Linked DNA regions of Homo sapiens. The protein of the gene in region 2 interacts with the protein of the main gene of each other region in a pairwise test. Each region holds a gene or a part of one and is shown on either strand. Other genes may lie near its edges.

Region 1 (3,907 bases), on a different chromosome or scaffold from region 2:
CTTATTGAAACTGGTTTGCCCTCATATCTCAATCGTGTCTTCATTACAGCTTCTCTGTGCTCAATGTCTCCTTTATGAAATAAACAGCCATCTCTGTCCCTGGAAGAAATGTGCCAAAAGATTTTAAGGAGATAGGCATTATTCAAAGGCAATATATTATTTTAAAATATAAATAAAAGTGGAACTTATTAAAACTGAAGGTCTTGGCTTGTCACCTATCATAGGAATGAAATATAGGGAATAAAGTTAAGTTCAGAGATAATTCTACAACTTAAAAATTTTGGTCACTGATTTTGGTGTTTAATATTTTTTCTTACAGAATTCATAGAAATATTAATTTCTATGATGATTCTGATTGCTATACTTAAAACTTGAAAGCCAACAGAGAAATGTTTGTCAAGTTGTCAACAAGGAGATTTTTGAAGGATGTTATGGAAACTGAATAAGTAAGCCTGAGGCAAAAAGTCTAACATCATTGTGACATATATAAAAGATGACACTAGTGATCCCTTTACAGTTTTATTAATAATTATTATTTTTCGTATACCGGTTGCACTGATTCATTTTTGCTCTTTTATTTTTTAGGCAGATGGCTGGTTTTTGTAGGATTAAGCAGTGAGGAAAAACAGCAAACTAAAAATGCTACTTCAAATATAGCAACAGTCACTACATAAGGCTTAAATCAATATATTGCAAGTAATTTCTATGAATTTTGAACAATACAATGTAGTGTATGTGGAAAGATCTTGCCTAATAAGTTTCATTCTACTCCTCAAAGTTACTGAAGTCAGTCAACTATTAATAACAGAATTGTTTTTATAGAAAGATTCCATCTTCTTTACTGTTAGATGTTATACGTGTCTTGTACTAGGATAAAATAATGAGCATTGTGCATCGCACCTTCTGATAATCTCATACTTCTATAAATACTAAGATAAATAATCACTCTTTTAAATTTAGAGAGAGTTGGTTTTAGGCTAACAATTTTTTTTCTTCTTTCCAAGACAGAGTCTTATTCTGACGCCTATGCTGGAGTGCAGCAGTGCAATCTCAGCTCACTGCAACCTCTGCTTCCCAGGTTCAACCAATTCTTGTGCCTTCACCTCCCGAGTGGCTGGGATTACAGGCATGTGCCACCACACCCAACTAATTTTTGTATTTTTAGTAGAGACAGGGTTTTGCCATGTTGGCCAAGCTGGTCTCGAACTTCTGACTTTGAGTGATCTGTCCGCCTTGGCCTCCCACAGTGCTGAGATTACAGGCTTGAACCACCATGCCCAGCCTCTAACAACTAATTTTAATAAGTATTACTGGACTAGTCTACAGGTTCACTGAAAGAAAGGCTACCTGTGAGGATGCGTTTAATTAGCTTTTGCCCTTATATCTCAATTCTGTCTTCATTACAGCTCTGTGCTCAGTTTCTCCATCTATGAAATAAATACAGCCATATCTGTCCCTGGAAGAACTATGTCAAAAGATTTTAAAGAGACAGGCATCATTTGAAGGCAGTATTATTTTAAAGTATCAATATTACATTTCTTGCAAAGAGCTGCTGACAGTTAGTTCTTGCCTTTTTTTTTTTTTTTTTTTTTTTGCTCTTTTAATGAGTTTATTCTGTCAATAGGGAAAATATCAACTTTAAAATCTAAACATATGCCACAAAATTTTGGGACAAATTTTGAGTTGAAGACGGCAGTACAAACTCATGTTTAGCTTTGTACACACATAAATAATTATAGATGTGTACATATGCATGGATTAATATACATACATATTTCTCAACTCTGCTACAAACAGTGACATCCCAGTAGCAACAAGCACATCTAATGCCCAGATCTTGGTTTCTAAGTATGATTCTCCAACAAAAGGAACCAGGGCTCTTTGGAGCAGGGGTTGATTCTAGGGATTCTAGGGTTGGGGCAGGGAATATCCAAGATGAACCTGGAGCATCTTGTAGTGCCAGAAAGTAAGAAGTGCTCAAAAATCAAAAGGATGGGCACATCAAAGGGACATAGTAGCCAACCTGGCAGAACTCCTAATAGCCAAGCTGGACAACTTAAGCAACAAAATAAATACTGTGTTACCCAAAATACAAAATATACATGAGTCCATACTGATGTAAACAAATTAGGGTGGGAGGGAGAAACAAATTTTCCATATAGAAAAATTCCAAATACTACATATGGATATTCCCACTTCCAGGGGGTTGAATGTAATCTTTCCCACCCACCACCTCCCATGACTGGACTTAGTGACTGTTTTCCAAAGAACAGAAGTATGGAAAGGGAAAATAACAGTAATTTTCAGCAGCAAAAAACCAACACACACTACCTTAACCAAGTGTCCAAAGTTAATACACCATCAAGCTGATAGCATGTAACTCCTGACATGATGCAGTGAGAAGGACCTTCACCTCTGGTATTCTTCCTAAAAATCTATAACCCCACTCTAACCATGAGGAAAACATCAGACAAACCCAAATTGAGGAATATTCTACAAAACACCTGACCAGTACTCCTCAAAACTGTCAAGGTTATGAAAAAGAAAGACTGTGGAACTATCACAGACCAGAGGCTAATTAGGCATGACGACTAATTCAGTGTGGTATCCTAGATTGGATCCTGGAAAAGAAAAATGACATTAATTAAAAAACTAGTACAATCTGAAAAATAAAGTCAAAGTTCCGTTAATAGTAATTGCCATTGCTGGTTACTTAGCTTCTGACAAATGCTTCATGGTTAAATAAAAGGTTAACACTGGGGGAACTGGGTGAGTGGTCACAGAAGCTCTCCATGTATCTTTGCAACTTTTCTGTAAATCTAAAATTATCCCAAGTTTTTTTTTTTAATCTGAACATAAAAAACTGTTTCTACTGATTTTTGTATAATTTGTGATCACGAATTATATTTTATAACGATATTGAGTTTGTCCTTTTGAGAAAGCCAATGCTGCTAACAAAATCCATGAATTCATTGTAAGTGTAAAGTTACCTGGACAAATATTTCAATAGTAAATATTGATAAACCATTTTTTTTTTAGAGTCTTGCTCTGTTGCCCAGGCTGCAGTGCAGTGGCACAATCTCAGCTCACTGCAACCTCCACCTCCTGGGTTCAAGTGATTCTCGTACCTCAGCTTCCTGAGTAGCTGAGACTATAAGCATGCGCCACCACGCCCGGCAAATTTTTGTATTTTTAGTAGAGACGCTGTTTCACCATGTTGGCCAGCTGGTCTCAAACTCCTGACCTCAAGTGATCCAACCGCCTCAGCCTCCCAAAGTGCTGGGATTATAGGTGTGAGCCACTGTGCCCAGCCGATAAGCATTAATTATTAATAATGGCTTACAAAACTGTACCTTTTATAAAGGTTTGAAATAAAGAATCAATTGAGGGTCCCAAACATTTAAGTGGAAACCCAGTTTGCTCACTTAGCCACAAGGCATACATGTGCCTTGTCTCACTGGAACAGCTGCCACCAATTCAAGTTGGAAGATACTAGGTTCCCGGCAATGACATATCTCCAAAGTTAGGAACATGGCCCTTTCTCCAGAACATACTTTTCCTTCTGCCCTGTTCTACCTGTAATGACTTACAAATAACCGCCTCTCCCTATGCTGTCCTTCTCTGACTTTGAAAGTCAGTTCATCTTAATAACTTTGGCCATGGGTCACCCAAAGGATATATATGGCTTGAGGTCCCAGGCTAGGGAAAGGTTAACAACCAGTAGTCAGCAAAGACCGGTCTAGGAACATAACTGAGCATTCCAAGAGATTGAAAAGTTTTCAACATTCATAGACATCTTCAGAAGCTGTTGAAGTTTTCTTGGATTTGCTCTAAACATATGGTAATAATTTTCAATGTAAATAAGAGATCTATAAAAGGCATTTATATCTTGCCTTTTCCATCCTTT
Region 2 (2,806 bases):
ATCCTCCCACCTCAGCCTCCTGAGTAGCTGGGACCAGAGGCACATGCCACCATGCCCAAATAATTTTATTTTTTGTAGAGATGGGGTTTTGCTATGTTCCCCAGGCTGTTGAACTCCTGGGCTCCAGTGATCCCCCTGCCTCAGCCTCCCAAAGTGCTGGGATTACCAGTGTGAGGCACCGCGCCCAGCTACATACATTTTTAAGCATATTTTAACCCTGTGCCGCAGATCAACACTGGCAGGCCGCGTGCGCAGGGGAGTGCTCAGTAACTGCACACTGGTGGAACTGTCCCTGCCTCAAGCTCTGGGAGGGGCGGGGGGACAGCCCAGCAGGCCAGCTTCTTACCCATATTGTCCACTCCTCGCGGGATGATCACATCGGCATACTTCTTTGTCTGTAAGGCACAAGGGGGGGTGTTCCTGTGAGGACTTTTCCTTCAAAGGTGATTTTAAGATGCTCAGAAACAGATGCAACAGCAGGAGGGGCGGCCCTGGGGTGCTCAGAGGTGCTGGTGTCATCGGCAAATGGGGGACACAGACTCAGTCATCAGCCAGGTGTGAGAGGCCATGATCCAAGAAGTGAGGCAGAAAGTGCAGCTGAGGCAGCCAAAAGAAAGTGCCTCTTCCAGTGTCCCCATTCCATCACAGAAGACAGCCCCCTTCCAGTGTTCCCACTCCATTACAGGAGACAGCTGGCTACGCTAACGACTCAATTCACTGGGCCAAGCTAAGTGTGGCACTTCTACAAAGTGTGACATTGTTCCTCTGGAATCATGAAGCTTCTGCAAATACCCTGGCACAGCAACAGGACAGCCGCCGCCGTGCATAATTACTGCAGGCAGAGACGCTGATGGTAACTTACTCCCTCATCCAACCACTCATTGGCTCAATGCTGACTCTCATTCCCTGTCAGATGCTCTGCTGCTGAGGAAGGACAAGGATGGAGATATATCAGGAAATGCAGGGCTGCTGGGGAGGGTCCGCAGCCAGATGGTGGGGGTTGGGGGGTGGCTTTAGGGAAGGGGAAGCAGCCTGGAGAACATGGCTGAATCAGACAAAGCTGAGGGAAGAGGGAGGGCAGGGTCTGGGCCGAAGGACGGAACTTGGAACGGTGCGTGCTGCTGGCGTGTGGATTTGGGTCAAGAAGGCGGCAGAAGAGACAAGCTGCAAGAGGCAGACAGGGACCAAGTCCTGGGGACAGCTGTGTCTGCAGTTGGTGGGACCCCATCTCATGAAAGCACGAGCGCAAGGGCGAGGGCTGCTTTCTATTCTAGTCTGATAGTCTGACGGGCTGGAGGAGTCCGGGAGAGCTGACAGGGGTCTTAACCGCCAGCAGGGATGGGCCTGAATACAGTTGGGAAATACCTACGGGGTCCAGGCAGAGGACTGCACAAGCCACTCAACATGAAGGTGAAGGAAAAGGAGGCTCAAGAACGGCTCTGGGTGGGGCTGGGGCCGGGTGCGGTGGCTCACGCCGGTGATCCCAGCACTTTGGGAGGCTGAGGTGGGTGGACTGCTTGAGGCCAGGAGTTTGAGACCAGCCCAGCCAACATGGCAAAACCCCGTCTGTGCAAAAAAAAAAAAAAAAGGAAAAATTAGCCAGGCGTGGTGGTGCGTGCCTGTAGTCTCTGGCTACTCAGGAGCCTGAGGTGGGAGGATCACTTGAGAGTGGAAGGTGGAGGCTGCAGTGAAGCAAGATCTCACCACTGCACTTGGGCCTGGGTGGCAGAGGGAGACCCTGTCTCAAAAAACAAGCAAGCAAACAAACCAACCAAAAACATCTCTGGGGCCTGGGCCCAGAACATAGCAGGTGACAGCACTTCCTCTACTCAGGTCGCTGAGGCAGATTTGATATCCAGAGTTTTACTGCGAATCACCTACTTTTTGCCAAATATCTTTCTGTGAATGAGAGACTAAAACAAGTTAACTTTACTTTTAAAATTATATTTTAGAAATTTCAGACAGCATGAATGCAAAAAAAAACAAAAGTTTTCTTTATATAGCAGCCAATAGGCCAGGCATAGTGGCTCACACCTGTAATCTCAGCACTTTGGGAAGCTGAGGTGGGAGGACCACTAGATCCCAGGAGATGGAGACCAGCCTGGGCAACACAGGGAGACCCCATCTCTACAAAAAATTTAAAAATTAACCGAGCATGGTGGTGCACGCCTGTGGGCCCAGCTACTCGGGTTGCTGAGGTGGAAGGATCGCTTGAGCTTAGGAGGTCAAGACTGCAGTGAGCTGTGATTGCACCACTGTACTCCAGCCTGGGCAACAGAGCAAGACTCTGCCTCATTAAAAATAAAATTTAAAAAAAGGCCAGGCACAGTGGCTCAATCCCAGCATTTTGGGAGGCCAAAGTGGGTGGGTCACTTGAGTCCAGGAGTTCGAGACCAGCCCAGCCAACATGGCAAAACCCCATCTCCACTAAAAATACAAAAATTAGCTGGGTGTGGTGGCGTACGCCTGTAATCCCAGCTACTCGGAAGGGTGAGACAGGAGAATTGCTTAAACTTGGGAGGTGGAGTTTGGAGTGAGCCGAGATCGTGCCATTGCACTCCACCCTAGACGACAAAAAGAGACCCTATCTCAAAAAAAAAAAAAGCAGCAGATAGAACTTACTTGTCCTACATTATCAAAGGCAGGAATCTTGGTTTCAGTTCCTTTGTGCTGTATTTTTACCTTAACAGGCAAAATGTTCCCGTGCAAAACACTCCCATTTGAGTAGAGCCACGAGTCCCACCAAGCCAGAAACACAAGATGGAGAAATGGAGAAAAGACAGGTGGGTGTGCAGCGGGGAGTTCC

Evidence for each region.
Region 1: the proteins of UCK1 (region 2) and PLA2G12A interact in a two-hybrid assay, tested with the Homo sapiens proteins (one large-scale study listed by BioGRID and IntAct).

Annotation. Positions count from the first base shown.
Region 1 is NC_000004.12:109,709,483-109,713,389, forward strand, and holds the end of PLA2G12A (group XIIA secretory phospholipase A2 precursor), read right to left. Parts: 3' UTR 507-3,907; downstream 1-506. UniProt on the Homo sapiens protein: PA2 catalyzes the calcium-dependent hydrolysis of the 2-acyl groups in 3-sn-phosphoglycerides. Does not exhibit detectable activity toward sn-2-arachidonoyl- or linoleoyl-phosphatidylcholine or -phosphatidylethanolamine.
Region 2 is NC_000009.12:131,525,583-131,528,388, forward strand, and holds part of UCK1 (uridine-cytidine kinase 1), read right to left. Parts: intron 922-2,806; exon of another isoform or gene 863-921; intron 396-862; coding exon 347-395; intron 1-346. UniProt on the Homo sapiens protein: Phosphorylates uridine and cytidine to uridine monophosphate and cytidine monophosphate. Does not phosphorylate deoxyribonucleosides or purine ribonucleosides. Can use ATP or GTP as a phosphate donor.